Linked DNA regions of Homo sapiens. The protein of the gene in region 1 interacts with the protein of each later gene in a pairwise test. Each region holds a gene or a part of one and is shown on either strand. Other genes may lie near its edges.

Evidence for each region. Proteins that work in one complex are often made in the same cells at the same time.
Region 2: the proteins of TRIM62 (region 1) and UBE2L6 interact in binary tests that used the Homo sapiens proteins (3 or more experiments, as listed by UniProt).
Region 3: the proteins of TRIM62 (region 1) and UBXN7 interact in binary tests that used the Homo sapiens proteins (3 or more experiments, as listed by UniProt).

What each region holds. Positions count from the first base shown.
Region 1 is NC_000001.11:33,158,041-33,165,066, reverse strand, and holds part of TRIM62 (E3 ubiquitin-protein ligase TRIM62), read left to right. Parts: exon of another isoform or gene 1-4,101; coding exon of another isoform or gene 4,102-4,215; intron 4,216-5,122; coding exon 5,123-5,379; intron 5,380-6,698; coding exon 6,699-6,814; intron 6,815-7,026. UniProt on the Homo sapiens protein: E3 ubiquitin ligase that plays a role in antifungal immunity by mediating 'Lys-27'-linked ubiquitination of CARD9 downstream of C-type lectin receptors; leading to CARD9 activation, followed by activation of NF-kappa-B and MAP kinase p38 pathways.
Region 2 is NC_000011.10:57,564,670-57,572,421, forward strand, and holds the start of UBE2L6 (ubiquitin/ISG15-conjugating enzyme E2 L6), read right to left. Parts: upstream 3,004-7,752; 5' UTR 2,943-3,003; coding exon 2,916-2,942; intron 1-2,915. UniProt on the Homo sapiens protein: Catalyzes the covalent attachment of ubiquitin or ISG15 to other proteins. Functions in the E6/E6-AP-induced ubiquitination of p53/TP53. Promotes ubiquitination and subsequent proteasomal degradation of FLT3.
Region 3 is NC_000003.12:196,429,425-196,436,532, forward strand, and holds the start of UBXN7 (UBX domain-containing protein 7), read right to left. Parts: upstream 3,004-7,108; 5' UTR 2,976-3,003; coding exon 2,903-2,975; exon of another isoform or gene 2,778-2,902; intron 2,018-2,777; exon of another isoform or gene 1,961-2,017; intron 1-1,960. UniProt on the Homo sapiens protein: Ubiquitin-binding adapter that links a subset of NEDD8-associated cullin ring ligases (CRLs) to the segregase VCP/p97, to regulate turnover of their ubiquitination substrates.

The sequences.
Region 1 (7,026 bases):
TAGTCCCAGTCTCTTCAGAGGCCGAGGCAAGATGATGGCTTGAGCCCAGGAGTTTGAGACCAGCCTGGCCAATATAACGAGATGCCTTCTCTACAAAAAAAAAAAAAAAAATTGAATATAGCCAGGCGTAGTGGCACATGCCTGTAGTCCCAGCTACTCTGGAGACTGAGACAGATGGGAAGATTGCCTGAGCCCAGGAGTTTGAGGCTGCAGTAGGCCATGATCATGCCACTGCACTCCAGCCTGGGTGACAGAGTGATACCCTGTCTCTAAAATGAATGAATGAATGAATGAATGAATAAGCCCATTGCCTAGGAGTCAATCCTGAGCATGTCCCCTCGAAGCCCTCCAGAGGTGGCCCAGCCCTGGTATCATCTCCCCTTAAGCTCAGGCCATGGGATACAGACTCTGAAAGGTAGGGCCAAACTCTGCAGTCTCTGGCTACCGTGGTTTGGGAAACAAACAAACAAACAAACAAACAGACTTTTCCACTGACTTGAGAAGGACATGGGTTCTGATCCCACCACTAACTCACTGTGTGACTTTGGGTAAATTGCATGCTTTCCTGGGTCCCCAGCCTTCCCATCTGTCCAGTGGGGACTGCCAGGCTCAGTCCAGCACTCTGGGACTGGAAGGTGCCGGGTGGAGTCCCCACTATACAGAGTGACTCTGTGTCGTGAGGCCTGGGGTGATTTCAGGCTGACCCCGCTCTGTCAGCAGGAGCTGCGGCAGAGCCTTAGGAATGCGCTGGGCCTCTGGAGGTCATCCTGGGGCCTGAAGACACCATTGGAAACCCAGATCTATGCCCCAGCTTGGCCACCAACCCACTGTGGGGTCTCAGGAAGGTCATGACAAACAATTCTTCACAGAACATTCCAGAGTGCCTCTGGGCAGGACCCTCGGGGGCAACAGATGATAAACAGTCACAGGATGCTGGCCTCATTGCTTCTTGCAGCCTCAGTTTCCCCAACTGTCTGGTGATTCTGTACCTCTTGGATGATGAGAAGCAAATGGAAGCCTCTCTCTGTATGAGAGCGGAGTATTATGGGCTGTTCCTTCTCCCCAGCAGCACTCTCTTCTCTCCACATCCCACACCCTCTTTGTTTTTCTCCACTGACCTCTTCCTCCCCCGCTTTCCTGTCCATCTGTCTGCCTCTGGGGGGTCCTGTGGGGCCACATCCCCCTCGAGTTCCCCCAGCCCCACTTCCTGTCTGGACTGGGGTGTTTATACAAGAAATGCCTATGGATGCTTTGGAGGTCATATTTCACCTGGTGCCTGACTCGGCTTTCCTGCTGCGCCTGCCCCTCCAATGGCCTGGCCTGAGGGCCTGTCTGATCTCCCTCCTCAGGCCCTCTGTTTTCCTTGGTCGGCGCCCTGGCGGGGTGATGCATTCTTGGCAGGGTGTTTTTCTGAAAGGGCCCCAGCACCTCCAGGCCCTAGGGTGTTCCAAGGGATGTGGTGGGTTGGGGTGGGGGCTGTTTCCCCAGCCACAGAGCTGAAAGGAGGGGGTTGGGGAAAGGGTGACTCTGCCCTGGAAAGAACTAGAATAAATGGGGTGCACCAGTTGAGCAGAACTTTTCTCTGTGCTGAGAATTGTGTTCCTCTTCATTATCCTGCCAACCTCACAGAATGTCACCTCCACGAGAGCAGGATTCCCTAAAACCTAGCACAGTGTCTGGCACACAATAAGTAGTTATAAAAAAAGTGATTGAAAGGAAAAAAAAATCGGCCAGGCACAGTGGCTCACGCCTGTAATCCTAGCACTTTGGGAGGCTGAGGCGGGCGGATCACCTGAGGTCAGGAGTTCAAGACCAGCCTGGCCAATATGGTGAAACCCCGTCTCTACTAAAAATACAAAAACTAGCTGGGCATGGTGGTGGGTGCCTGTAATCCCAGCTACTCAAGAGGCTGAGGCAGGAGAATTGCTTGAACCCAGGAGGTGGAGGTTGTAGTGAGCCAATATCGAGCCACTGCACCCCAGCCTGGGCAACAAGAGTGAGACTCCATCTCAAAAAAATAAAAAACAACAAAAACAAAAACCAAAAAAACAGGAAAGAAAAAAAATCGTCCCAGGTAGGAACTGTTGTTATCTCAATCTTATCAGTGAGGCAACTGAGGCACAGAGAGGTTGAGGGACCAACCTGAAGTCCCACAGCTAGAAAATGGCAACTTGGGAGCTTACCATCCAGTCCTGTCAGAGCCCAGTGCATAGTGCAGCTGGGATGTCTCCTGGGGTGTCCTGCAAGAGCTATGGCTTTGTAGTCAGCAAGCCAGGTAGGTCAGTAGGACTCATCGGGAATGTACTTGGGGCTCCAGGGGTGGCTGTCACTCTGATGTTCCACTGCTGGCTGCCCTGTCCCTGCCTTCCCCCCTTTCCCTCCCATCCTCTCTCGTCCTTGAGACATTGAAACCCCAGCCTGGAAAGAAGCTGGAGCCTGCACCCAGCTCTACGGAGCAATCTCAGACAAGACTCTTCCCTCCTTCACCCCTCAAGCAACTCCTGATTGCCAGCCTTGTACCAGGCTCTGGGATGGGCACAGGGGTGCAGAGCCGAGGGAGATGTCATTCCTACCCAGCAGGGGCCCACTTACTAGCCAGGGAGACAGAAAATGTGGGACAATGTATTAAGACTGTTGACAAAAGGCTCTGGGAACATCCAAGTGCCTGAAAGAGAGGAAAGTTATCTCTGAAGAGGTCACTTTCAAGCTAGGTCTTGCAGGATGAGTAGGAGTTTGCCAGTTGAATACAGGGTTTGGGTAGGGTCATTCTAGGCAGGTGGAGTTGCAATGCAGTGGCGCTAGGGAGGTAAGCTAGGGTTAAATTGAGAAGGTCCTTGAATGCCAGACTAAAGAGTTCAGCATTTTACTATGTGTCAAGGAGCTAAAGAAGGTTCCTAAACTCAGGATCATCTGTGATTCAGTTGGCACTTTAGAAGGATCACTCTGACAGTGAGTTTGCTGGCAAAGACAAGAGTTGACTTGTAGACCAAGTGAGTTGGAAAGACCTGTGGGACCCCAGAGGGATGTGTTGGGGAGACTGTTGGAAAAATGGGTGTGGCACTCAGGAGACAGGCAAGGCCATCTATATGGACTTGGGAACCATCCTTAAAGCAGTTCAAGTTGAAAATGGGGGCAGGTGTTCAGGGTGAGGATGGAAGGCGCTGACCTGGATGAGCCCCGAGGAACATGGGAGGCAGAGAGGCAGCAGTCACAGAGATGGGAGGCAAAGCAGAACTTTCAACTAGGAGAGGGTGGCGAGTGGGCTAAGTGCTGCAGAGTGGTCTAGGAGGAGCCAGAGGAGTAGCTGCGGAGTCTGGGCGCCTGTGGAGGGCAGCTCCAGGTGGTGCAGGGACGACGGACCCCATCTTCCCCATCAGCAACATGCCGCTGCAGAGGCCTCCACCCTCCCCGGGTGAGGGGGCTCAGGAAGGCCACGGCAGCCTGGCCGTGCATCCCCAGACTCTCGTCCGCCCCCCTTTGTCTGCCTGGCGTTCTGGGTGGGCATGCGCAGCGAGGCTGGCCCACCGCCAGCAGTTCTTCCTGCAGGCCAGCAGCCGCGCGTCGGGGAGGGAACAGGCCCTAATTGAGCCTTTGTAGAGCCTCCCACAGAGCCCTGGGCACTGAACACAGTGGGGTTTCTGACTCCATGAACTCCCAGCCAGAATCCCACAAAGTAAAATTGCAGAGGCAGGCCCCACATGCTGCTGCAGCCTGGCCGCACTTCTATAGCCCGTGTCGTCCTGACGTTAAGCCCTTCCTCATGCGGCTCCCTCTGCCTGTTCCCCTGACCCCCAACTGACATCCTGCCCATCCCTCAGGCCCCGGCTCAGAACCCGTCTCTCAATGAAGACTTCCGGGAAACGCTTATTAGAATTGCAGTCTTCAATAACCAGGCTCTTTCTCTGCGCCTTGGAGTGCGCACAACAACACCCCCTCATTTCATCTTCACCACAATCCTACAATGCAGTTTTTGTTACTCCTTTCACAGATAAGAAAACTAAGGTTCACAGCTCTTAGGCAACTGACGTTGCCATAGCTAGAGACCCAGAGCTAGAGTCCTTACGCAGACTGTCAGGCACCAAACCTGTGCCCTTCACTACTTCACCCTTCCTGAGCCTCACAGTGCCCTTGGGGGCAGAGAAAACCATGAAAGTTCATGCTTACCTCCCTGATCCTGTCTATAAACACCAGTCCTTGCTCCTTAGCCAGAGGGTCCTAGAGGTAACAGGAGACAGCGAGTAACCACCAAGGTTTTCTCAATACGTTGCAATTTACAAAGCTCTTTGATGTCTGTGATCTTGTCATCTTTCCTTGAGCCCCCTGAATGAGCCCCATGAATGATTTTTTTAAAATAAAGACTTCAGCCGGGCACGATGGCTCACGCCTGTAATCCCAGCACTTTGGGAGGCCAAGGTGGGCAGATCACCTAACGTCAGGTGTTTGAGACCAGCCTGGCCAACATGGTGAAACCCCATCTCTACTAAAAATACAAAAATTATCCGGGCATAGTGGCGGGCTCCTGTAATCCCAGCTACTAGGGAGGCTGAGGCTGGAGAATCGCCTGAACCCAGGAGGTGGAGGTTGCAATGATCCGAGATCGTGCCATCACACTCCAGCCTGGGTGACAGGAGCAAAACTCCATCTCAAAAAACTAATAATAATAAAAGCAAAAAAAATAAAGACTTCACTATGTCCTTGAGAGAACATCTTCACCCTGTCCCCTAGCCCTCACTCCAGCTCCCTCATCCCTCCTACCCCCAAGCCAGAAACCTGGGCATTATCCCCAGCTCCTTTCTCTTCTGTACCCCTCTAGCCAACACAGCAGGGTCAAAGAGGCTGCCCTCTAGATGTTTCTCAAACCGTGTTCCTCACCATTGCTGCTGCTCCTCTAGTTCAGGCCTCATTTTCTCACCTGGGCCATTTCATTAGCTATTTAATGGACCACATAGAACATGCCCATCCTTTCCTACCACCATGCTTTTGCATGTGACATTTCCCCCACCACGCGTGCCCTTTCCCACCCTTTCCTCTCTGTGTGTCAAGGCTCTCGATTTCCTCCTCTCACCCAGAGATCACCCCATCTGCTCCCCCAGCCATAACCCCTGACGACTGTCCCCCACAGTCTTCCACCAAGAGCCTGCGGACCACTATCGGCGAGGCCTTCGAGCGGCTGCACCGGCTGCTGCGTGAACGCCAGAAGGCCATGCTAGAGGAGCTGGAGGCGGACACGGCCCGCACGCTGACCGACATCGAGCAGAAAGTCCAGCGCTACAGCCAGCAGCTGCGCAAGGTCCAGGAGGGAGCCCAGATCCTGCAGGAGCGGCTGGCTGAAACCGACCGGCACACCTTCCTGGCTGGGGTGGCCTCACTGTCCGAGCGGTAAGTGCCACCCGCCGGGGCCCTCCCCGGCTGACCATCCCCTCCTCGACCCATGCTGGGCAGTGGGAGTGGAGGCAGATGGGATCCTTAGCAGAGAATTCTTTCATTCAAATCTTCATCAAACATTTACGGGACATCTGCTATGGGTAGGAGCATGAAGCCTTGAGTATGAAGCCAGTGAGGCTTGAACTAGAGGAGCAGCAGCAATGGTGAGGAACACAGTTTGAAAACCATCTAGAGGGCAGCCACTTTGACCCTGCTGTCTTGGCTCTAGGGGTGCAGGAGAGAAAGGATCTGGGAATAAAGACTTCATATATTTACATTATTATATATGTAATATATTCTGTATACATTATAGATAGTAGGTAGCATTTAATAGTGTTTACAATCATAATATAAATATATTACATATTATTTTATTTATGATAATGTTGGCATTACGTGTTACTATATAAAGGCTTTATATTACTGTAACCCTCTCAGTCCCTTTGAAAGTAGTTACCACTGTCATCATCATTTCATGCATGTAGAAACTGAGGCTCCTGCTGGGCACGGTGGCTCACACCTGTAATCCCAGCACTTTGGGAGGCCGAGGCAGGTGGATTACCTGAGGTCAGGAGTTCAGGACCAGCCTGACTAACATGGTGAAACCCCGTCTCTACTAAAAAAAAATACAAAAATTAGCCGGGCGTGGTGGCAGGCACCTGTAGTCCCAGCTATTCAGGAGGCTGAGGCAGGAGAATTGCTTGAACCCAGGAGGCAGAGGTTGCAGTGAGCTGAGATCGCGCCATTGCACTTCAGCCTGGGCAATAAGAGCGAAACTCTGTCTCAAAAAAAAAAAGAAAAAAAAGAAAAAAACTGAGGCTCTGAAAAGCTACATCAGTTGGCCAAGGCCCCCCATCTGGTAACTGGTAAGCCAGGATTCAAGCCTAGGTCTCTGTGACCCCAAATCTTCCCTTAGTAGTAATAACACTTAGTCATTGGTTTGTTGGTGATCAATACTGATTGCTAAGATCATGAATTTGGCATTGACCGTGACCGAGCACTGTGCTGAGCATCTGTATATGTTATGCCATGTAATTCTCACAAAAAGCCTAGAAGGCTGATGCTAGCATAGCACCCATTTTAAAGATGAGAAGACTGAGGGAATGGTTAGAGAGGCCAGAAGCAGCACAAGCAGGCACTTGAATCTGAGTCCCACAGACTTCTCACTCATGACCACATCCTATGCCAGCTGCCCTGAAGGTGGCTGCGGGGCCCCTGGCATTGGGGCAGGAATCCAGTCCCTGGTGCAGCCCCCTTTCCTGCTCTCCTTCCAGGCTCAAGGGAAAAATCCATGAGACCAACCTCACATATGAAGACTTCCCGACCTCCAAGTACACAGGCCCCCTGCAGTACACCATCTGGAAGTCCCTGTTCCAGGACATCCACCCAGGTAAGGCATGGGTTATCATGGTCCAGAGCTAGGTGGGGCATGTCCCAGCACAGCCCAGCCCCCTGTCCTAAACACAGCATGGGGCAGTTGGGGTGAATGAGCAGAGTGCCTTGCTGAGCACCTAGTGTGTTCCAGGACCTGTCCTGGGCACCTGCACAATCACTCAGCTCAGTGGACCTTCATAACACCCCAGGAGATGGCTGGGCGTGGTG
Region 2 (7,752 bases), on another chromosome or scaffold:
GCGGGTGCCTGTAACCCCAGCTACTCGGGAGGCTGAGGTAAGAGAATCACTTGAACCCACGAGGCGGAGGTTGCAGTGAGCTGAGATCGTGCCATTGCACTCCAGCCTGGGCAACAAGAGCGAAACTCCGTCTCAAAAAAAAAAAGAAAGAAAAACACAGATTAGTATAACACTGTATTTATGGTATATACACTACTCATATCTTAAGTAGAAAGAGGAAAAGATGACCAATTAAATATAATAACTACAACAATTTTTCAAGAGGTAGACAGTACAATAAGAAAGAAATAGAAATGGCCGGGCACAGTGGCTCATGTAATCCCAGCACTTTGGGAGGCTGAGGTGGGTGGATCACCTGAGGTCAGGAGTTCGAGACTAGCCTGACCAACATGGAGAAACCCCGTCTCTACTAAAAATACAAAATTAGCCAGGCGTGATGGTGCCTGCCTGTAATCCCAGCTACTCAGGAGGCTGAGGCAGGAGAATCACTTGAGCCTGGGAGGCGGAGGTTGCGGTGAGCTGAGATGGCACCATTGCACTCCAGCCTGGGCAACAAGAGTGAAACTCCATCTTAAGGAAGGAAGGAAGGAAAGAAAGGGAGAGAGAAAGAAAGAAGGAAAGAAATAGAAACAACAAAAAGTTAGTAAGCGGAAAGACGAAGTTAAAGTATACAGTTTGTATTAGTTGTTTTTTTTTTTTTTTTTTTTTTTTTTGAGACAATGTCTCACTCTGTCACCCAGATTGGAGTCCAGTGGCACAATCACAGCTCACTGCAGCCTCAACCTCCTGGGCTCAGGTGATCTTGCTACCTCAGCCTCCCAAGTAGCTAGGACTACAGCAGTGTGCTACCATGCCCGGCTAATTTTGGTACTTTTTGTAGAGATGGGGTTTGGCTGTGTTACCCAGGCTGGTCTCGAACTCCTAGGCTCAAGCAGTCCGCGAACCTCAGCCTCCCAAAGTGCTGATATTACAGGAGTGGGACACCACGCCTGGCCTTCATTAGTTTTCATTTTGCTTGTTTGTTTATGTAATCAGTGTTAACTTGTCATCAGTTTAAAATAACAGGTTATAAGATATTATTTACAAACCTTGTAGTAACCTCAAATCTAAAAACATACAATGGATACATAACAGTTATGTGACCCAAAATGTCAGTAGTGATGAGGTTGAGAAACTGAAGCTCTCCAAACCCAGTCCACAAGTGGGGAGGGGTCCTTTAACACTGTGGACCATTTGAACTTTCTCTGCCTTACCCCCACCCCCAACATATAATATAAACACATCCCATGCCCCCCTCCTATCCCTCAGCCTATGTTCTATTTCTGTTCAACCAATAAGCTGCTTCTGGTGCCTTCCACCCAGGGTCAATGGCCCTTCATTTATCTTTACCCCAAACTAGAAGCATCTGCACTTGTAAGAGTTTCTCTATCATCTGTGACTCTTTGGCAAGAACAAAGCCCAGGGCTGACCGGAGAAGATCTGGAATAGACATTTTCCAGGTCTTGGAAAGATAAAGACACTTGAACTTTATCTGTTTAGGATGAGTTCTGCCAGAACTTTCCCAAAGCCTGAGGAAGTTGAAACCCAACCTAAAACACACAGTTCTTTCCTACTGCCTACTAGGAAATCACCTGACTCAGAGGAACAGAAAATGAAAGTAGAAAGGCCATTAAGAGAGCCTGCAGGCTGGAGGCCTGTGGACCTGGTTTCATATTCCAGTCCCATTGCTCCTTACTGAAAGACTCTGGACAAGCAAGTTATTTCCTCTGTGCCTCAATTTCCTCATTTGTAAAATGCGGGTATATATTACTTATCTCACAGAACTGCTGTGCGAATTAGATGAAATAACCATGTAAACCGTTTGGCATGTAATGGTTCCAATGCAATAAATTCTGGCTCCCATCTCTCTTCCACTTGGCTGGAAAGACCCTCTGCCTCATTTTGCTGCCAACCTCCAGATTTAGTATCTAGGCCAAGCCTGCTCTGGGCATCCCAGTCTGAGGCCATTTTCTTCTCAGAGGCTGAGGGTAGCAGGCACCCTCTTCCTAGAGCCTGCCCCTCCACCCTGCAGACTGGAAGGGGCACTTCTGAAAGACTTGGGGTGCCAGACTCACTTCACCAGGATCACCTTCCTCCCTAATCCATCTCCAAACACCCTGGGTTTTCCCACCTTCTGGAGGAAACTGCCCCCTCCCCATCCTTCCAGATCTTATTTCAAATTGTGTCCCTGATAGGAACAAAATTCAACAAGGGCCGGATTTGTGTTCATCTCTGCCCGCCCCCCCCCCCCTCCTAGAACAGGGCCAGCACATGTAGGCATTCAACACTTGTAGAACTCACGAACGCAAGCCACCTACTCCAGGAGGCCTTCCAGGTCCACCTCCGCATCTTTTCCTCCAGAGAATACTCAGGGAACTTTGTCCCAAATTCTAATCAGCATTCCGTGTTTCTCAGGACTCTAGTAATACAGGCATCAAATTATGGGATGGGCTATGGGCTTATTCCAAGGCAAGGACTTCATCCTGGTCATCTGTGTTCATAACCCACCACCAGCAGTAGCAGAATGCCTGGCACCAAGATGCCAAGGACTTTTCCTGCACTGGAGATGCACCCAGTTGTTATCACAAGTTTCAGGCAGGAAAAGCGAAATTGAAACCAGTTTTGGGGGAGCCGGCTCATCTTCACCACGCGAACGGCTCAAGCAGAGGCCTCCAAACCCCCAAAACCCCAGCTCTGGCCACTCTTGCAGGCCAGTCCTCCTCTGAGTAGAGGGCGGGGAGGACAGGGATTCAGCCAGCCCTGGTGCCCAGACAAATAAATAAATGTGCTCGGAGAGCCGCGGAGGGGATGGAGGGAGGAGGGAATGCGGGAGGCGAGGGGAGCCAAGAGAAAGGGGTCATCCTATACGCGGTTACCTTCACCACTCGCATGCTCGCCATCATGTCGGGACCGAGTGTGTGGCACCCGTGGCCTCCAGCAGGACCGAGCTCCGACCCGCGACACAGCGCGCCCCGCCCCGCCCCGGGGACCCCACCCCCGGCAGCCCCGCCCACCCCTCCTCCAGCCGTCGCTGCGTGGGCCTCCCCGCACCCGCTCCGGCGAGGCCAGGAGGCCGTCGAAGGACGACCCGCCGGACAACCGCCCGATCCCCGCGCGGAAGGCTCGGACCCGGGACTCACGGTCTTTGTGCGGAGACGGGGGCGGGCCTCGGGGCGCACGGCTTTGCTGATCCCTGCCTCCCGCGGGGTGCGCCGTGCACCGGCGGCGAGCGCTCAGGGGCGCTGGGGGGCGCTCATACGGGTTCCAGTCTTCGCTCCGCCGGCGGCCGCACCGGGAGCTCTCCGGTCTTTGTCAGCCCCCTGCACGCCGCCCCAAATACACACTCGCCCTGAATAAATAAGGGATGCTCGCTGTACAGACGCAGCTCCGTGACAGTTCTCAGCGGCCTCCACTATCGGACTGCCGCCTTGAGCCCCTGCCCCAGCAAGCTGCCGGAGCCGCCGAGCCTGCCGCCTTCCCTCCATGGGCCCAGCGCTCCATCTCCGAAACTGCGTGGGGGATGGCGTAGACCTGTGCCCTCCGAGCACCGCTCCCCGGCAGTCGGGGATCCTTTGTGCTGCCCGGCGTTCGGCGCGGGCTGCAACGTTTCTCCCCGTGGCTTGGGGCAGAGCACCGCAAGGAGGCGCTGTTGGACCCTTTCTCTTTTGCTTTGGGGGTTCGGTCTACCATCATTCAGTCCTTTACTAGGTTTAGTATTTACTAAGTGCCTACTGTATGCTGGTTTGGGAAACAGTTGGTGGGGGAAGCCCCAAGAAGGACTCAGGAGCCTCCTTTCCAAGAGAGAGTCTGCTTCCCCTCCCTTACTTTACTACTGGTCCATTACAAGCTGTGGGCCTAATGTGTGCCCCCATGCACAGCTGGAGTCCCCAACCCTCTGTGCAAGGACAGAGTACTTGCAGCCCCTGAGCACCAAGCAGCATCTGGGGAAGATGAGACTTGTTGGGAGGGCCGATCCCCTCCTTCTCACCCTTCCCTACCCCCGTTTAGTCCAGACGAGAAAGGAAATCAGTATATTTTGAGCACCAGTTTGTGATCTCAGTACCTCACAGTTTTTTTGTTTCTTGTTTTTCTGACAGAGTTTCACTGTCGCCCTGACTGGAGTTCAGTGGCGATATCGGCTCACTGCAACCTCCGCCTCCCGGTTCAAGCTGTTCTCGTGCCTCAGCCTCCTGAGTAGCTGAGATTTACAGGCGCGCGCCACCACGACCGGCTCATTTTTGTATTTTTAGTAGAGTCAGGGTCTCGAGCTCCTGGTTTCAAGTAATCCACCCGCCTCGGCCTCCCAAAGTGTTGGAATTACAGGCGTGAGCCACCGTAATGTTTTTATCCAAGTATTTTGAAACCAAATGACTTCTCTGCTCAGATTTTGCAGAACGATTAATTGTTTCATTCAATTCAATGAACTTTAACAGCATTTTCTATATGCCCGAAATGAATAGGACACTCCGTAATCCCTTAACAGGGGTAGAGATGAGGGAACAAAGACATTCGAACCTGCCTGTGATCAATAGTCTCAGTCAACAAGCGCCTACTACTGAGTGGCAGGCATTGCCAATAGGAAACACCAGGATGAGAAAGGGGAGTCCCTGCTCCTGAGGAGTTAGTTCCCAGACTACTGGGACAGAGGGAGAGAATGCAGCCCCTGATTTTTAATGATAATGCTATAGAGAATCACCTGGTACTCTGGGAGTATGAGGAGGGTCACTTTATCCCTCTTCAGGGAGGGGCAGAGGTTTCCCGGAAGAGAGAAAAATCCAAGTGTATTGTGAAACATGATGAGTCAGCGAGAAGTAAGAGCGTGGGATGAAGATGTTCTAACAAGAGGGAACAGCATGAGCAAACGGGGCAGTGTCTATGGAAACTGGAGCAAAAGCCTCTGTCCACGTATCGTAGCTCTCCTTTTCTTTTCTTACAGGAACGCTGCATCCCGAGGTGAATTAACAGTCATGGATATAGCTGGGTCCTAAGTCCCCACACAGTGGGGCAGCCCACTGGTGTGCCTTTCATGTCCTTTCACAATGCAGACCTTTGTGTGTCAGAACAAGCCCCAGGGAGACCTGGGTTCTAGTTCCACATCTGCCCCCATGTGCAGTTATGGCCTTGGGTGGTCGGCGGAAACTCCTATCTGCTTGCCAGGACCATTGTGAGGCTAAGCTGAGGGAAGTGGAGGAACTTAGAATATTGTAAGTCGCCGGGCGCAGTGGCTCACGCGTGTAATCCCAGCACTTTGGGAGGCCGAGGCAGGCGGATCACCTGAGATCAGGAGTTCGAGACCAGCCTGACCAATATGGTGAAACCTCGTCTCTACTAAAAATACAAAAATTAGCCGGGCATGGTGGTGGGTGCCTGTAATCTCAGCTAGTCAGGAGGCTGAGGCAGGAGAATCGCTTGAACCCAGGAGGCAGAGGTTGCAGTGAGCCAAGATCACGCCATTGCACTCCAGCCTGGGGGACAGAGCAAGACTCCGCTCAAAGAAAAAAAGAAAAGAAAATTCTAAGTCCGAGGCCTGGCATGGTGGCTCATGCCTATAATCCCAGCACTCTGGGAGGCCAAGGCAGGCGGATTACCTGAGGTCAGGAGTTCGAGACCAGCCTGGCTAACATGGCGATACCTCGTCTCTACTAAAAACACAAAAATTAGCCAGGTGTAATGGCGTGCGCCTGTAATCCCAGCTACTGGGGAGGCTGAGGCAGGAGAATCACTTGAACCTGGGAGGCAGAGGTTGCAGTGAGCCGAGACCGGGCCATTGCACTCCAGCCTGGGCGACAAGAGCGAAACTCTGTCTCAAAAAGCAAAACAAGAAAATTGTAATTCCAGGATATAAACAATCAGGTTTGAATCCCAGCTCCACTATTTTTGGCTAAATAACCTTGGGCACATTACTTAACCTGTCTGTGCCTCCATTTCCTCATCTGTTAAATGGAGCTCATAACAGTGGATGTGAGAAACAATGAGTTGATATTTGCAAAGAACTTAACTTTGAATGGTGGACAATAAGTGACAGTTATGATAATGATAACATAATAAATATTAAAATGATGTCAGGTGCCTGCCTCAGAGTGAATGTACCAGGCTGTAGGAACAGATGCCTGAGCTTGCTCCCTTAGAACAACAGCAACACTATTTTCTCCAGTAGGAGACCCTGTTTTACTTCTCCCTGATCTGGTCACTGGCATTTATTCATCCATCTACAAAATTTATTGAGCACCTACTTATACAAGGCCCTGTATGGGGTACTCGATGGGATTCAGGCATTGATTGGTTAGGCTGGCTCGTCTTCACCATTGAGAGGAAGAGACACACATCTGTGTGATGACAAAAGGTGGTAGGAGAAAGGCCTCTTAAGTGACGTGCACATATGAGGTATGTCTCTTCCAAGACTGAGCTCTGCCAGCTGTAAGGCTTGCCAGTCTCTTATGAGGATAAAATGAGATGGTGTATGTGAGCAGACACCTTGTAGGTGTGAAAGTACGTTATCTATTTATAATGCCTCTAGAGTTCTGGGCAAGAGGTTCAGATTTTTCAAATGTCTCCAAGAACCTTCAGTGCATCTTCAAAGGAAGAACTTGGATCAGGAAGGATCAGTTGATTTCTTTCCATGCCCATTCCTTGGGCTTGTTCCTATTTGGAGTAGGGACGGTTAATCTCAGAACTACCCCAGCTCTCCCCATCTTCCTAGAGCTTAAAGAAGTTCCTGGGCCAGGTGCGGTGGCTCGTGCCTATAATCCCAGCACTTTGGGAGGCCAAGGCAGGCAGATCATCTGAGGTGGGGAGTTCGAGACCAGCCTGACCAATATGGAGAAACCCCTGTCTCTACTAAAAATACAAAATTAGCCAGGTGTGGTGGTGCATGCATGTGATCCCAGCTACTCGGGAGGCTGAGGCAGGAGAATCACTTGAACCTGGGAGGTGGAGGTTGCAGTGAGCTGAGATCGAGCCATTGCACTCCAGCCTGGGCAACAAGAGCAGGCAAAAAAAAAGAAGAAGTTCCCAGGAACCAGAGACAGAAGAGAATTTCCTGCTTCTTTTGATCCTCGTGCTTACCCCACACCCCCCCTTCCTCTGGGTTAGTCTCACACACACACACACACACACACCCCTCCTGTACCATGAGCCCTGCCCTTGTGGTTGAGGTGGAGGGATGGATAGAGGCAATCAAGGAGTCAGGGAGTCCCAGGAGGGGAGCTGGGGGTATTCTTGCCACAAGAGCAGGAAGGTGGCCTGATGAGTGAAGGACCTGCTTCCTCAGTGGGGCTCAACCACTCACTGACTTCCTTGTTGTGGGACTTTGGACATGAGAAGTAACAGTTAACAACAGATAACAACAATAACTAATGTATATTGGATGTGCAAGGATGTATCAGCAGCTTGGGCTGCCATCACAAAATACCACAGGCCAAATGGCTTTAACAACAGGTTTTATTTTCTCACAGTTCTGGAGGCTGGAAGTCCAAGATTAAGATTCTAACTGATTTGATTTCTGATGAGGGCTCTCTTCCCAGCTTGTGGACGGCTGCCTTCTTGCTATGTCCTCACATGGCCTTTCCTCAGGTGCTTGTGCAGGCAATGTGGGTATTAGAGAAAGTGAGCTCTCCAGTGTCGCTTCTCACATGGACATGAATTCTGTCCGATCGGGGCCCCACCCTGATGACTTCATTTAATCTTAATTACTCTTTAGAGGCCCCATGTCCA
Region 3 (7,108 bases), on another chromosome or scaffold:
TTTTCCGTTCTATTTCTAAATGCCAAAAAAAGATAAGACTCACATTTATTTTTATTTTTTCTTTTTCTTTTTTTTGCTCCTGCCTAAAAAGTAAGGACTCACATTTTTGATGATGCATTTGTTTTTACAAGAATATTGAGCTTCCAAGTAAAACCTTTGTGAAATCAGAGCATAAGCTATTAAGGTCACTAAAATAAATATAAAATACCTTTTAATTATAAACACTACGATTAAAACGTATGTGGAGAGAACCCCAAAAAAATTTTAAGACATGTAAAAAAGGCAAAAAGAAATCAATCATGTGTTTCTAACGGTTAATCACTATCTTGTAAAAAGAATCCCAAAAATTATCAATAGAAATTCACAATATTTGAAGAACACTCAAAGGTATTTTCGCTCTGTAGATCTCCAGATACCACTGTCTACTGATTGAGGGACTCCAACTTGATCCAGCAATCAAGCTACGTAGACGAACAGAAACAGAATTAAAGCAATTAAGTGAGTCAATTCAACTCACCACACTTCGGTTTTTGTGTGTACCTAATAAAAATGTTGCAACAGAAGAAGTAATGTGGCGTTAAACCAATCAGAGTTTGGGAAGAGTAGTAATTAGCATAAGAAACTGAAAATTAATTAAGTGGCTTTTAGGGCCAGGCGCGGTGGCTCACGCCTGTAATCCTAGCACTTTGGGAGGCTGAGGTGAGTGGATCATTTGAGGACAGGAGTTCAAGACCAGCCAGGCCAACATGATGAAACCCCGCCTCTACTAAAAATACAAAAATTAGCCGGGCCTGGTGACAGGCGCTTGTAGTCCCAGCTACTCGGGAGGCTGAGACAGGAGAATCGCTTGAACCCGGGAGGTGGAGGTTGCAGTGAGCCAAGATCGTGCCTGGGAGATCTGCACTCCAACCTGGGCAACACAGCGAGACTGTCTCAAAATAATAATAATAATAATAATAATAAGTGGCTTTTTTTTTCTTTTTGAGAAATGATCTTGCTCTGTTGCCAGGGATGGAGCGCAGTGGTATGATCTACTCACCGCAGCCTTGAACTCCTAGGCTCAAGCAATCCTCCCACCTCAGCCTCCCCAGTAGCTGGGACTACATGTCGGTGCCACTACATCCAGCTCATTTTCTTATTTCTGTAGAGATGGGGCCTCACTATGTTTTGCCCAGGCTGGTCTGCAACTCCTCGCCCCATGTGAATCTCCAGCCTCCGTCTCCCAAACTGCTAGGATTACAGGCGTGAGACACCGCGCCAGGCCCAAGTGGCATCATAAACCATCTCTAGGAAATCTAAAGGATTAATAATGATATTCACTTCTCTATCAGATTCACTGCAAAGATTTTTCTATATAAGCATAATGCAGCAACACTAACTTATATACACAATAATCTTCTCCATAGCAATGATTTGTCAGACATTAGGAAATCCTTTACATATTTAATATAATAATCCAATCCTTTATATCTTCAATAATCCAATCACAAAGTTCAAAAATATTAAGAGAAGTTATCATGCAACTCCTCACCCCAATTTTATTGCAAATTTTACTTTACTTTGACCTGATGTTCCATGCCCACAAGCTAGATAACAATGCGTCAAATATCTCGTTATCATTGCAAAGCAAAAAAATAAAACTTGCTTTAATATAAAACGGTAACTAGTATACAACCTGTAGTAGTTAAAACAATATAAAATTTTACTTAACCAGATATTGCACGTTAAACTCTAGGAACATTAACAGTGGAAACATTCTCCGCATCTAACAAATTACGAGATAAAGTATAGATCCGTTGAGAGGGAACTAACATTCTGACCTCCTTCCAAAACGACAAACTAGAACGGCAAAATTACACTCAGGCACATTGGAGTACTCTTCTCTCAAATCACTCCACAGAGAACTTCATCATTTGCTCCGCCCTCTAATAACTCATGCAAGAAAAGTTCAGCACCATCAGAGAGAAACAAGACAGAGAGAATTCATAGAATGGCTTTAGGGCCTTTCCTCCAGGCGGTAAGAGGATCTGCGTGTGTCCTTCGCAGGGGTCCAAAGGGAGAGAACCTAGGCCTAGGGTTTCGGGGATACCGACACCCAGAAACAGATTTTCTCTCAAAGAAGTTTCTGCCGCCATCCCTATCTTATCAGCAGGAGGCCCCGGCGCCATCGTCTCCGTCTTTATGATTTTATTATGGGGAGGTGGGAAACGCCACCCTGGATTCTTCCAGGCCTCCCCTATTCAGCTTGGGGGTTCCCCCTCATTCTTCCCTCAAAGCCTCAGTCCCTGAGGTCCTCCTCAGCACCCCCCGCTTCTGGCGGCCTGTCCCCCGTGAAGTGTAAAGGCACGGCCGAACCCACCGGCCTTGCCGTGAAGGCGGGAGGGCCCGAACCCGCCAGGGCCACGGCGATGGCTCCGAGGGGCCCAGAAAGGGGAAGGGCAGGCCGGGGACCGGGGCAGAATGACCTGGCCGGGGAAGAAAGGAAAAAAGGAGGTGAGGAGATGCACCGCACCGCAGGGCTGCACAGAGAAGGGAAGATGATGAAGGAGGAGGAGGAGGGCGGTGGCCCGGGTGCGGCCCCCTACTCCTCCCGCCCCCGGGTCCCCGGGCCGGCGGGGGCGGACGGACTCGGCCCATTCCCAGGTCTGGGCTGGCGGGGGGTTGGGGGATCTCCCTCCACGCTACTAGGAGACAGAGAACGAGGGTATCGGGAGCGGGGGGGGGCTGTCTCCCGCCTGAACCCGGAGACCCCGACGCCGTCGTCGCCTCTTCCTCAGGAGGGAGGACGGCAGCTGTGGGTAAAGCCCGAAGGAGGAATGCCTGAAGGTAAGGGGAAGCCCGGGGCAGACCCGCTGCCCGCTCCGGACCCCACTCTCCACCTTCCGGTAACCGCGTCTCTTACCGGTAATGGTGGTGAACTGTTGAATTAACCCCTTCAGCGCCGAGGACGCCGCGGAGCCCCCGTGGGCAGCCATCTTACCGCCGCCGCCGCCGCCGAACAACAACACAGACACACACGGACTGCCCTCCCCCACTTCGCCGTGCGGTGTGCGCAGGCGCATTGACCGCCCCTCGAGCCCCGCCCCTCCCGTCCCCAGCGGTCTGCGCAGGCGCATTTTCCGACCGGGCCCGCGCGCTCCCAGCTCTCGGGTTGGCTGCTCGGTTGCTGCCTGCTCAGTGCATCCTTTTTGCCATTGCTGGTGCCTTCCTCTCCGGGCTCCAAGGCTAGCCTCGCAGGCGCGGTGTCGATTCCTAGATTCCGAAGGAAGCTTCGGTCTCGGCAGATAGTTCTTCGCATTTCAGCTTCGCAAGCTTTATTGACAGAGCCAACTGCCGATGACAGCATTTTTCTGTTTTGCGGTTGTACCGCACTCTATTAGGTTTCCTGCAGGTCCCATCAAAATGCAAACCCTACCTCCTCGCTTTGAAGCGACTCTCCCCGTACTCGCCCCCCAGCCTCTAAACTAATGGCTTAGCTAACCGATTGCGACGAGTGAAATACCAGAACCCTTCATGCCAAAGAAAGCACTTAGCGCGGGGTTGCCACCCAGTAGGTTTTCATAAACGATTGTTTAGTCTGCTTTCCTTAAATAAATTGGCCATCACGTCTCCCGTTAGGGTCTTAATGAGACCCCAAGAGGCGTCATTTGTATAAAAAGAAACTCTGTATATGCAGTAGAGGAAAGAAAACATATAGAAAGGAGACTGGAAAAGTGTGCTCAAAACGCTGGTAACGGTTACCTCCAGAGAAGAGAACGATCGGGACGATGGTCAAAGCGGACCTTACTTCGAGTTTCTTATTTATCTTTTTATTTTTAAACAAACATTATTGGCCGGGCGCGGTGGCTCATGACTGTAATCCCAGCACTTTGGAAGGCCGAGGTGGGAGAATCGCTTGAGGCAAGGAGTTCGAGACCAGACTGGGAAATATATCAAGAATCCATCTCAAAAAAAAAAAAAAAAAAAAGATATTCGTGTGTTCCTTGAATAATTTTAAGTATTTTGCAAAACAGTTACATGAGTGGGGTGCGCTCAAATCCAATAATCCCCCACCTTGCCCATAAAGTTAAAAGAGATTCCAAGTGATTCCGTTTGTTTTAGCCTCCCACCTTCCAACCTCCACCCACATATTTTGCATCTTCATAGGAAAATGGCCCAATAAAAGATGGGATGAGCTGTCTGAAGAATTGACACATCCTAAGAGTAAACATGCTATTGGGGAGAATTAAGAAAGAGCCATGTCAAATCAAGGGGTATAGTTTTTTGTTTTGTTTTGTTTGACAGGGAGTCTCGCTCTGTCGCCCAGGCTGGAGTGCAGTGGTGCAATCTCAGTTTACTGAAAGCTCCGCCTCCCGGGTTCAAGCGATTCTCCTGCCTCAGCCTCCCAAGTAGCTGGGATTACAGGCACACGCCACCACGCCTGGCTAATTTTTGTATTTTTAATAGAGACGAGGTTTCACCATGTTGAGCAGGCTAGTCTCAAACTACTGACCTCAAGTGATCCACCCGCCTCGGCCTCCCAAAGTGTTGGGATTACAGGCGTGAGCCACCACACCCAGTCGGGCTGTAGTTTCAAGAAGATATGATTGATGTAAAAGAAAGCAGACTCCAGTAATCCCAGCACTTTGGGAGGCCGAGGCGGGCGGATCGCCCGAGGTCAGGAGTTCCAGACCAGCCTGGTCAACATGGCGAAACCCCATCTCTACTAAAAATACAAAAATTAGCTGCTGTGGTGGCGCGGGCACCTGTAATCCCAGCTACTTGGGAGGCTGAGGCAGGAGAATCACTTGAACCCGGGAGGCAGAGGTTGCAGTGAGCCGAGATCATGCCACTGTGCTCCAGCCTGGGTGACAGAGCAAGACTCCGTCTCAAAAAAAAAAATGTATTTTAAGTTAAATGACAGATTGGTCCTGGCACTGCCTTCCAGGTTGCTGCAGTTCTCTAGATGGGCTGAGGAAGGGCAGGGATCAGTCATAAATTTCGGCAGCTGATTCCTTCACATTTGATGCAGAGGTGCAAAAACAGGCAAGGGAAGAAAGCCAAATCAAGAAAGTGTTACCTCTGTCTCCCTTCATCCTAAAGGCTGAGTCACTAGCCAGCCATGCAAAATCAAGCTCCACGTAAAATGGTATAACACCATTAACTACAAAAACTAAACACAGTGATTACTGTACCTCCATCAGATGGAGAGGCCAGTAATGAGCTCTGCAGGTTTATCAGGTTTATTTCCAAAATCTTATAATTCAGATTTAATGATATGATTTTGATTAACAGTGCAGGAAAAGGTGATAAAGTCTGTGGCATCCACAACTCCAGAAGGCATTTTTTTAGAAATTAAAAAATAAGATAAAAGAAAATTAGACAGGTGGCCAAAAAGATTCCATGGTCGGGGGGAGGGGGGGAAAGAAGGGAAGAAAATGAGACAGTTTCCATGGATAACCAGGGAACTGGGAAAAATAAATAAAGAAGTAATGAATAATACAACCTTGAAAAGCTTTTTTGGATTATTAAAGAATATGAAGGACTGACCAGTTGCGGTGGCTCACACCTGTAATCCCAGCACTTTGGGAGGCCGAGGCTGGGGATCACCTGAGGTCAGGAGCTCCAAACCCGCCTGACCAACATGGTGAAACACCATCTTTACTAAAAATACAAAATTAGCTGGGCGTGATGGTGCGTGCCTGTAATCCCAGCTACTCGTGTGGCTGAAGCAGGAGAATCGCTTGAGCCCGGGAGGTGAAGTTTGCAGTGAGCCAAGAATGAGCTACTGCACTCCAGCCTGGGCAACAGAGTGAGACTCCGTCTCAAAAAAAAAAAAAAAAAAAAAAAAAAAGAATATGAATATGAAGGATGGGTGTCGTGGCTCATGCCTGTAATCCCAGCACTTTGGGAGGCCAAGACAGGAGGATCACTTGAGCCCAGGAGCTTGAGACCAGCCTAGGCAACATAGGGAGACCCTATCTCTGAAAAAAGAAAAAAAAAGTTTAATTAGCCAGGTGCGGTGGTGCAAGCTTGTAGTCCCACCTACTCTGGAGGCTGAGGCGGGAGGATCACTTGGGCCCAGGTGGTCGAGGCTGCAGTGAGCCATGATGACACCACTGCACTCCAGCCTGGGTAAGATATGTGGAAATCACAAGGAACAGTGGAGGATCTCATACTAGTAACAGTAGAACTGTCACAACCCATACGTCCAAAGAGATGAGAACAGAGAGAAGTTAGAGAAATCCCAAGTGAGATTTTTTTGCAGAGCAAACCACCATGCAAGAAGCAATGACCTTCTGTCAAGGGACATAAATAAGCAGCTTGAGGCAATCTCAGAGAGGAGCTCAGGGACATAGATACCCTGACCTCGATCTCCTCTTCTGTCTCCTGCCAGGAATCCCCAATGGCTGAACCCAAATGGAAGACAGAGGGCACAGCAAGAAGCCCCTTGTAGTTCCCACAGGCAGCCCCGGGGCAGAGAGCAGGATGGAAAAGAGGAAATTGATGGACACAAATGTAAAATGGAATGGTCATGGAAATACATTCCAAAACTTGAGGAGCTTTTTGGTTTGTTTGGGTCTTTTTTGTTTCATCTTGTTTTGTTTTTTGAGACAGGGTCTCTCTCTGTCGCCCAGGCTGGAGTGCAGTGGCAGGATCTTGGCTCACTGCAGCCTCTGCCTCCTGGGTTCAAGCGATTCTCCTGCCTCAGCCTCCCAAGTAGCTGGGATTACAGGAGCAGGCCACCATGCCCAGCTAATTTTTGTATTTTTAGTAGAGACAAGGTTTCACCATGTTGGTCAGGCTGGTCTTGAACTCCTGACATCAAGTGATCCACCTGTCTCAGCCTCCCAAAGTGCTGGGATTACAGGGTGAGCCACAGAGCCTGGCCCGAAACTGATGGAGTTTTAACAGAAGCTAAAGGAGAATATATAAGCTTAACTGGTTATATTAGAGAAGAAGACTGGAAAATAAGTAGCTCAGCATTTCATCAAGAAGTTAATAAAGGAACAACAACTCAGCAGACAAGGAAAAATGTGAAGAAAAAATGCTAAAGAGCAGAAATTGACAAAATAGAATACAAAATACAGAAGAGAGGATTCATAAAACCAAAAGCTGGTTCTCTGAA